2 separate regions of the Homo sapiens genome follow, and region 2 is linked to region 1. The links come from fine-mapping of genetic effects on gene expression. A gene starts in region 1. The other region holds a variant in brackets. All regions are shown on one strand. Distances are from middle to middle.

The links. PIP is the estimated chance that this variant, and not a neighbour inherited with it, causes the effect.
Region 2: its variant is fine-mapped to the expression of WLS in whole blood (TOPMed, PIP above 0.99).

The regions. Positions count from the first base shown.
Region 1 is chr1:68,230,163-68,235,546 of GRCh38, reverse strand. WLS (Wnt ligand secretion mediator) reads left to right here and starts at 3,024. Exons shown (of 12, transcript NM_024911.7): 1 at 3,024-3,353. The coding sequence starts at 3,248.
Region 2 is chr1:68,268,169-68,273,552 of GRCh38, reverse strand. No RefSeq gene overlaps it. Among named protein-coding and RNA genes, the nearest start is that of WLS, 38 kb to the right of the region's middle. The variant T/C (reference allele first, on the strand shown) is at 2,266.

The sequences.
Region 1 (5,384 bases):
AAATATCCCTTTTTAATTAAAATAACTATTTAATAAGTGCTCTTTTAAAGCAGGGGATCATCTTGGTGGAGAACCAGCAACTCATTTACAGATGAGAAAACTGAAACCTAAGGAGTTAGGCTAGTTACTCTGCAGAGATGCATTTCAGAGCAGAGGGGGTGGGGTGTATTGTAGCAGCTCATTAAAAACTAAGTCAAGGAGTTCACTAATCTGAATAAATCACTTCTACCACTCCAGACATTTTTTATGGATCCAGTTTATATTTGAAGTGGACGGGGGCCAGGCGTGGTAGCTCACACCTGTAATCCCAGCACTTTGGGAGCAGAGGTGGGTGGATCACCTGAGGTCAGGAGTTCAAGACCAGCCTAGCCAACATGGCGAAACCCCATTTCTACTAAAAATACAAAAATTAGCTAGATGTGGTGGTGGGCACCTGTAATCCCAGCTACACAGGAGGCTGAGGCAGGAGAATTGCTTGAGCTCAGGAGGCAGAGGTTGCAGTGAGCCAAGATCGTGTCACTGCACTGCAGACTGGGCGACAGAATGAGACTCTGTCTCAAAAACAAACAAACAAATAAATAAACAAAAAACCCACCATTTTTTCTCTACCCTCTTATGCATAGTGCTTGGGGGTCTGTGGACTAAACTGACAAAAGACAGATTAGCAAGGCAAAAGACAAATTTTTGTTCACATATATCAAATGTATGTGGGCATTCATAACCACTCAAGGAGGCAGTTGTTAATAGAATTTGGAGCTTATATTCTATCTTAATAGGAGAAGAAGTGTATTTATGAGAAAACAAATGACTTTTAGGAAAGATAAATGGGCCCTTAGGAGTGCTGGGCTCAGAACATGATACCCCAAGGTATCTGAGTACTTTGAACTGAAGGACATTGGAAGGACAACAATTCTGTCTACTTCATCCTTTCTGATAGTACCTGGTGTTTGCCAAAGTAGAGGTAATTAATTACTATTCAGTGAATAACATTTGGACTGGGGGGGGGTTCCTCTGGGGCAGGTGCAAGTACTTTGACATCTTGGTATCCTTGAGTGCTTAAGAAAGAAAGCCTGGAACATGTTAAAGGCTCAATAAGTGACTTGGATAAAGAGTTGAATGAGAGAATAGATAAACAGCAACCACAGTCATGCATTGCTTAATGATGGGAATACCTTCTGAGAATGTGTTGTTAGGTGATTTGTCATTGTGCAAATGTCATAGAGGGCACTTACATAAACCTAGGTAGCATAGCCTACTACAGACCTAGGCTACACCGTGTAGCTGATTGCTCCTAGACTACAAACCTGTCTGGCATGTTACTGTACTGAACACTGTAGACAACTGTAATGCAATAGTAAGCACTCTGTGTATCTAAACATATCTATAGAAAAGGTGTTGTAAGAATATGGTATTATAACCTTATAGGACTACTGTCACACACACGGTCTGTTGTTGACTGAAACATCCTTATGTGACACATAATGATGTGTATATCCTCAGAACTGTTAAGAACTATTAGATGTTGAAGAGATGGAGTTTTGTATGCATAAAGTTTGGTGCTTGTCCTTGACAAGTCTCTGTTCTATTTGGAGATTAGAAATGAATGCTTCTATTAAGTGTAACCTGCATGACATCTTTTATAAGGGCAATGAAAATTCAGGAACAGAGTAGAGGAGGAGAGAGGACTGGGAAAAATAGTCTCTTGGCATGAAGAGGGTGTGTAAGGATGGGAGGGACAAGAAACAAGATGTGTGGGTGGTGGTGGTAGAAACTGCACGTTTGGGGAGCAGGGTGGGGTATTTACCAAACCAAGGGTCTATTGAGTAAGGTGAGTTGTACTGGCCAAGCGGCCAGTTTATGAAACATGGAAAAACCAGGCCCAGAAATTTAGGCTTGATAGAGCAGGAAATCTCTATCGGGAGCCCCGCCCCTCTTTTTATGGAAGTTAAGTATAAATATAAATATATGATTTCTCACAAAGAGACAACAAACATTGTAACTTAATATAGGTACCCTCTAAACCAACTAAGATCTCTTTAGACCTTTGAAATACAAACTGTGGGCTTGCTTTCACATTCACTTATTCATTCCACAAAAGATTATGGGGCACCTACTAGAGCTAGCATTTTGTTAGGCACCATGGGGGGTACAAAGAACAAAAAAAACTTGGTCCCTATTCCCCAGGAGTTTACAGCTCAGTGGTGGAGACAAACGTGTACACAAATCCTTACAATAGGAGGTAAAAATGTAAATACAGGATTGTAGGGGCTCAGTTCCCAGAGATACTGCATGGAGGTGGTGTGGAAAATTAGAAAGATTTTTTAACACTAGTTGGTTTTGGATCAGGTTTAACATTGATGGAGTAGAACATGTTCTCTTTAAGGCAATAACCAGGGTTAAGGCTGTGGAAGCACATGTGCTGGAGTAACGAACAGTGGTCTGATTTGGCTGGAGAGCAAGTTTCCTCAAGGGGCGCCGTGGGGAATTTAGCTGGGTATGTGCCCAATAACCGAGGCTGGGAATCTGGTAGAAAGAAGTCGAGCTGAGACTTTATTCCGCATCTCTGTGTTTTGACTTAGGCATCTATTGGGTCCTTTTAAAAAAAATTCTCCTCCTCTTTCCTAAAGAGAGTTCTAGCAGTTGGGGGTGGGGTGGGGACCATTTCCTAAAGTCAACGCGTAAGTTAAAGGTCTGCAAGGCGGTCCACCGGTGATTTAAATCTCGCACTTCGGAAACCAGAAAAGGAAACCTGTGAGAAGCTGGGCAGGGGGAACCCGCTTAACATCAACAGCAACCCCTAAATGGCATCAGACCTTGGAGAGACAGGTTGCAGGCCAGACTCGGGAGCCAGGCGCCAGCACCCGCCAGAGCTCTGAGCCCCGAACTGGTGGGCAAGGGGTAGAGGAAGAGAGGGAGGGAGGGAGGGAGGAAGCGCGAGAGGGAGGGAGGAAGAAAGGGAGGGAGGCGGCGTCATGTGATCCGCTTCCCTGCTCCTTTAAGCGTCCACAGGCGGCGGAGCGGCCACAATCACAGCTCCGGGCATTGGGGGAACCCGAGCCGGCTGCGCCGGGGGAATCCGTGCGGGCGCCTTCCGTCCCGGTCCCATCCTCGCCGCGCTCCAGCACCTCTGAAGTTTTGCAGCGCCCAGAAAGGAGGCGAGGAAGGAGGGAGTGTGTGAGAGGAGGGAGCAAAAAGCTCACCCTAAAACATTTATTTCAAGGAGAAAAGAAAAAGGGGGGGCGCAAAAATGGCTGGGGCAATTATAGAAAACATGAGCACCAAGAAGCTGTGCATTGTTGGTGGGATTCTGCTCGTGTTCCAAATCATCGCCTTTCTGGTGGGAGGCTTGATTGGTAAGTGCGGAGAGCTGCAAACTTTTCCCCCTTTCTGTCTTTTCGGGCCCCTTCCCTCTTTGCCTCTTGGGCTACTTGTTACAGTATCACTGCCTTGCTTCTATGATCTAATTAGTCCGGCTATTGTGCTTAAGAAAGCAGAGCTCCATGGGGCTCCGTGGGGCACAATCCAGTCTAGTGGCTAAGAGAAAAGGAGGGGAAAAAGTTTTGGCCTAGTTTCAGTATCCACTTGAAAGGCAAGAGGGGGGCGGCGGGGGTGGGAATCTTAAGCATGGCGACGGATCGCGCGAGGAAGCGCTGGGTTACAAAGTTGATTGCTCGCCCCCCCCCCCCCCCGCTTTTTCCCGCGTTCCCCCCCTTTTCCTCTCGGTTCCCTTCCAATCAGCTCCGGGAGGGCAACGTAATCGACTTTATTAGGAACAACAGAAGAGTCGGGGAACTGTGCCCGGCGCAAACCCGGAGCTCTGTTACAAGGCTGAGATACTTGCACGGTTGTAAATGCATTTGGTCGTCTTTGCTAGGGGCTGAGGGTTTGCAATTTGGGGTCCCGACCTTCGCGCCCTCTGCTTTCCCGCCGCACTCCACCCCACGCTCTGCCGTGGACAGGTCCGAATTGTCGGCCGGGAGGTTGGGTGGGATGGGGTGGGGTGGGAGGGAGTCCTTGACCAGCGCCGCGGGAAGTTGGAGAGGTCGGAGGGGAAAAGCGTATCCGAAAGGTGTTGCTTTTGGCCTCCTGCCCACTCGTGAATATCCCTTCCCCCACTACTTAGAGCCCCGAGAGCCGGTGACTGTGAATGTCCCCGTCCTCTTTTGGCGCTTAGGAGAGCGCCCTCAGCTCCCACCACAGCCCCCCGCAGGTGACAGCTCGCCGGCCTCCTCGGCGACAGCGCCCGCCCCGGGAGACCTCCCCTGGCGTGCACCTCCCGGACCTCTCTGAGTCAAACAGGCTTCCGGGTGAAGAAAACCGCCTCACGGACCGTCCACTCGGAAAAACTCCCTTCCCCTCACTGTCTCCCCATCTGCATCCATCCTCCCGCCTCTCTGCACACTCGCGCCCCCCGCCCCCTCAAGATTTGGGACATCCCGGCACAAACTTCAATGCCAACTTTGCAGCGGGCGCGGACGGGAGGTTCGGTTTCCTTACTTCACGGCTTTGTTAAACTTTGCGGAGTGGGGAGTCCACGGAGGGGCTTTCTCCGCGCGTGCCTTTACGGGCGCCCACGCGATGTGGGGTGCGGGGAAAACGCCCGGGGGCGCCGGCGGCGTCGCTGCCAGAGCTGCACAGGCTTGGGCACCTCCAGTCGTGTGCTTGGCGTTTTGTCTCCAGACTTGGGTTTGATGGGAACAAATTAAAGGGAGTTTGGTACTGTAAATCACGGTAACATCCAAGCCAATTGTCTTAAACAAAGGAGAGTGGGTGAAGCTTCATCAAGGAGAGAAATACCTAAAGGAGACAGTGCTCTTTTCTCTGTGTGCATTTATCCACAAAACAGAAAAGGGTTCAGAGTTTTCAAACAATCTCTTATCCCCAGTGTGGGCCAAACAGCTTCACATTTTCTTTCTGGAACCCTCACCCTCAACACACACACACACACACACACACACGCGCGCACACACACACACGGGTTGGCTTTTGTGTTAGGAGCTTCTGTTTGGCTACATGCAATCTCGTTTCCCCGTATTGGATTTTTCGAGGCTCTTAATACCTTCTCTGCTGGGAGCTGAAGGCAGCCTTCCCTGTGCCCTCACAGTGATTATGCAGCGGTTACAATTACACCTCTTGTCTCCCTTGATGAGCAGTTGCAGTTAGATGCCATTGGATCTTGTGTGATTTCAGTGGCAGACCATAATTAAAATTTCTTGCACCTTGTGCTTTCAGAATTAAATTGGCCTATTATCCCTGTCTGACCTTCATCCTCTTTGAGGTTTTTGCACAAGCAGCAAACCATTACACATAGTTTCCTGGTGTTTGTTGGTGTGTTTCTTTTTCTAGGCTGATCTCCTAGCTTTGCAGACAGAGCCCATTATCCA
Region 2 (5,384 bases), 38 kb before region 1:
ATTCAGTGCAATTTGAATTGTTAATCAATTTAAATGTTCATCATTTGAGCTTTAAAGGTAGGCAAACTGGTTTTTTTTCTTTCTAACTATATGTCCATAAGAAATTTCCTTAATGGCCCTTGCATGTTATTCAAAATTCTAATTAGTAAAACTGTATCGTCATGAAGATTAAATGAGGTAATGTTATCAAGCACCTACTATATCATCTGCATCAAAATATCCTGTTTCCTACTCCATTCATCGGTTTGGTCCTTGTATCATTTTGTATCATTTCTTTGTTTTTTCCCCTTGTGGCCTTATTGTTTCCTGACATTTTAAAATATCTATCTGGCCTTCAGAGCTGAATTGTAAGAACTTCAGGATCAGGAGCTGTTCTCATAAAGATGGTTCTCAAATTTCGAAATTTTTATCTTTTTTTTTTTTTTTTTTTTTTGAGATGGAGTCTCGCTCTATTGCCCAGGCTGGAGTGCAGTGGCACAATATCGATTCACTGCAACCTCTGCCTCCTGAGTTCAAATGATTCTCCTGCCTCAGCCTCCTGAGTAGCTGGGATTGCAGGCACCCACCACCACATCCAACTAAGTTTTGTAATTTTAGTAGAGACGGGGTTTCACCATGTTGGTCAGGCTGGTCTAGAACTCCTGACCTCGTGATTCGCCTGCCTCGGCCTCCCAAAGTGCTAGGATTACAGGCGTGAGCCACTGTGCCCTGCTTCAAATTTGTATTTTTTTAATGTGTGAAATCTTATACATTGCACATTGACACTCAAAGTACTAAATTAATATCAGCTTCCACACATCACCCAATGAGCATGAATTTGAACTCTCAACTAGTGGTGCCTTCGGCCAGGATTCCTAGGTTCAATTCGGATGGCATCATTATCTTTATGCAGCAATTTTTGCTTGTTCTATTATTTGAATAGCTAATCGCATTTGCCCTTCTAATATGTGAAAAGCCATAACAAAAAAGTGATTGTGACATAATAAAAGATATCCCCTAAATGGCAGATCTACATCTCAAATAGATTATTATTGGACTTAAGCTGATATTTGTGTTCAACTGTGAAGAGTAAGAATAAAATTAAGGGCCATGCATGAAGCATTGGAAGTCTGTCTTTTCAGGGTCAGCCTAAGAGGAGAGGAGTAGTGGTGGGGACATGAAGAACACTTTAGAATTTTAATTGTGAATCTGCATAAAAATCATTGACAGAGAAGTTCAAGGGTTTAAAGAGACATAGCCAAGGGTAAAGCTCACACAGATTTCTCAATTAAGTAGAGATTGGCAGAGTTGAATTTTTCTTTAACAAAAATATTTTTAAAAACTAATACCGGCAGGGCGCAGTGGCTCACGCCTCTAATCCCAGCTCTTTGGGAGGCTGAGGCGAGCGGATCACAAGGTCAGGAGTTCGAGACCAGCCTGGCCAATATGGTGAAACCCCATCTCTACTAAAAAAATACAAAAAACTAGCCGGGCGTGGTGGCGGGCGCCTGTAGTCCCAGCTACTCGGGAGGCTGAGGCAGGAGAATGGCGTGAACCCGGGAGTCCGATCTTGCAGTGAGCCGAGATCGCACCACTGCACTCCAGCCTGGGAGACAGAGCGAGACTCCGTCTCAAAAAACAAACAAACAAACAAACAAACAAAAAAACCATGAAATCATTTCATAATACCATGAAATCATCACTATAAGTTCCTGCTCAATCTCTGCACAACAACATTAGCAAATTCTTCTTCCCACAGTAAAATGATTTGGTTGTTTTGTTTACTAAATGTCACTTTTAGGAAGTAAGTTCTGCAAGGGCAGGAATATCTGTTTTGTTCAGAGATGTGTTCTAAGCACACAGATCAGCACCTGGCATGGAGTAATCGCTGAATAAGTATTTACTGAATGGAATTCAAGTAAACTGAAGTTTAAATAAGATATTACTTTGTAAAATTATCTGTTATACATCTGATGAGAGGTTAATATTCAAAATATATAAGAAACTCAAACAACTCAATAGTAAGAAAACAATCTAATACAAAAATGGGTAGATGGTTTGAATAGGTATTTCTCAAAATAAGACACATAAGTGGCCAACAGGTATATGAAAAAGATGTTCAGGATCACTAATCAACAGAGAAATGCAAATTAAGACCATAGTGAGAGATATCACCTCGCAGCTATCAGAATGGCTATTATTGCAAAGATGAAAGATAACATGTTGGCAAGGATGTGGAAAAAAGGCAACCCTTATACACTGTTTGTGGAAATGTAAATTAGAACA[T/C]CCATTATGAAAAAAAAATATGGAGGTTCCTCAAAAAATTGAAAATAGAACCCATGATATGATTCAGCAATCTCACTACTGGGTATATATCTGAAGGAAATGAAATCAGTATGTGCAATAGAAGAGACAGCTGCACTTCCACATTCATTGAAGCACTATTCACAACAGCCAAGATATGGAATCAACCCAAGTGTCCAGCAATGAATGAATGAATAAAGAAAATGTGGTATATGTACACAATGGAATACTATTTGGTCTTTAAAAGGAAGGAAATTGTGTCATTTGTGACAACATGAATGAGCCTGAAAGACATTATGTTAAGTGAAATAAGCCAGGCACAGAAAGATACATACCACATGATCTCACATGTGGAATCTAAAGAAGTTGGACTCAGAGAAGTAGAGAGTAGAATGGTGGTTACCAGGGGCTAGAGAGTGTAGGGGGCTTAGGAAAATGTTGATCAAAAGACGCAAAATTTCAGTTAGGTAAGTTCAAATTAGTTAAAATAAGTTCAACAGCTCTATTGTACAACATGGTGACTATACCTAATTAAAAAGGTATGTAACTATTTGCTGCCGGGTGTGGTGGCTCACGCCTGTAAACCCAACACTTTGGGAGGCTGAGTCAGGCAGATCATGAGGTCAGGAGTTCAAGACCAGCCTGGCTAACATAGTGAAACTCCATCTCTACTAAAAGTACAAAAAATTAGCCGAGTGTGGTGACAGGTGCCTGTAATCCCAGCTACTCAGGAGGCTGAGGCAGGAGAAATGCTTGAACCTGGGAGGTGGAGGTTGCAGTGAGCCGAGATAGTGCCACTGCACTCCAGCCTGGGTGACAGAGCAAGACTCTGTCTCAAAAAAAAAAAAATTATTTGCTATATTCAATTTTTTTCTCTGTTTAATAATTATGTGATCCTTCTATAACCTAGGAGTTTAAGAAAATCTAAAATAGATAATATGATTAGGATTTTATTATTTAGCTCTCACAGGTTCAGAAAAGCTGAGTACCAAGTTAGGCTCTGTCATGCGTTAGGCATGTAACCTTGATCAAGTCACTAAACCTCCCTGAGCCTGATTTAAGATAGATAAATAGTAACATATTTATGTAACAAACCACATATTTATCTTTGTATCTGTACTGCAGAATTAGGACAGTTTATAAGAATACCTACAATAAACTAAAGTAAATAAATTGCATACAGAAATATGTAAATACATATAAGTTCCAAGAAAAATACAGGTTGAGTGGGAAAACAAGACTAAGTAAAAGGGCTCCGTTTCTTTTTCAGTTCTTAAGATACAACCTTAGAGATTAATGTGAGAATCAAATGATTTAATAGGATGCTGTTTGATAAAGAGTTCATTGACCATGATGCACAGAGAGGCTGTATAAAGAGAAACAAGCCCAGCCATACCTCACATTCCAGCCACCCCCATTGGAGCCCCAGACGTGTGAGTGAAGTCACCATAGACTCTCCAGCCCAGGTGAGTCACCCTGTCCAGCACCACACAGCAGGGATAAGCTGCCACCACCATGCTCTGCCCAAATTGGAGAATTATGGGCAAAAATATGGCTGTTTTAAACCACTACCTTTTGGGTTAGCTTTTTATACAGTAATAGATAAACAGTTTGGTTTCATTTCTTGGTCTCAATAGCAGCAACTTTCGTCTCCTGTCTGGAGCAACTCCCTCTTTATTTCACCAATTATCACTCCACTATCTGTCCTTTTGCATCCATGGATTTTGAAGGAAGGTCAGTGGTATTGTGTGGAAAAGGCTTTGGCCTTTGACTGATACCTCCAAAAAAATTATCATGTGTGAATACTAAACAAAAATAATATTTAAAGCTGCAAATTGTTTGGCAATACAAAAATAGAAATCTGAGCCTTCTATTGACCAAAAATCAGAAATTGGATGTCACAGTGGCTTGTTTGCATTAGGCCAGAAGGAAGAAAAATGATATTAGTCATTCCCAGTGAGCAACAGTGAGAGATTGGCACGTGCACATGAAATGCAATCTCGCTTCCCATAGAAAGTGATTAAAAAGATTAACACACACACAAACACACCTTTTGTATTCCCAATTTTAATATATTGTACAACAAATACGTTAATATCAAGGAAAAGAAAGTAAGCCACAAGCTTTTCACCAAAATGTAACTACAGTCATGTATTGCTTAATGATGGGGATACCGTCTGAGAAATGCATCCTTGGGCAATTTTGCTGTTATTCAAACATCATAGAGGGAACTTACACAGAACTAGATGGTATAGCCTGCTAACACCTCAGGTATAAGGTATAGTCTATTGCTCCTAGGTTATGAACCTGTACAGCATGTTAGTATATTGAATACTGCAGGCAATTGTAACACAATGGTAAATGTTTGTGTATCTAAACATAGGAAAACTGTAAAATAGGAAAATACAGTAAAAATAAAATATCATATAACACACCTATATAAGGCATTTATTATGAATGAAACTTGCAGGACTGGAAGTTGCCGTGGGTAAGTTGGTGAGTGAGTAGTGAATAAATGTGAAAGTCTAGGACATTTCTGTACACTATTGTATACTTTACAAACGCTACACTTAGACTACACTAAATTTGTTTTAAAATATTTTTCTTTCATTAATAATAAATTAACCTTGGCTCACTGTAACTTATCTACTTTATAAATTCAATTTTTTTAACATTGTGACTCTTCTGTAATAACATATCTTAAAACATACATTTTGCAGCTGTTCACAAATATTTTATTTTTTTATCTTTATTCTGTAAGCTTTTTTTCTACTTTTATCATTTTTTTTTAACTTTTTTACATTTTAGTTAAAAACTAAGCACAAAAACACACATTACCTAGGCCTACATAGGGGCAGGATCATCAATATCACTATCTTCCACCACTGCATCCTGTCCCACTAAAAGGTCTTCAGGGTCAATAATACACCTGGAGCTCTCATCTGTGATAATAGTGCCTTCTTTTGGAGTACCTCCTAAAGGCCTGCCTAAGACCATCTTTCAGTTAACTTTTTATTTTTATAAATAGAAGGAGTACACTCTAATATAATGATAAAAATATAGTACAGTAAATACGTAAACCAGTAAGTTTATTATTATTA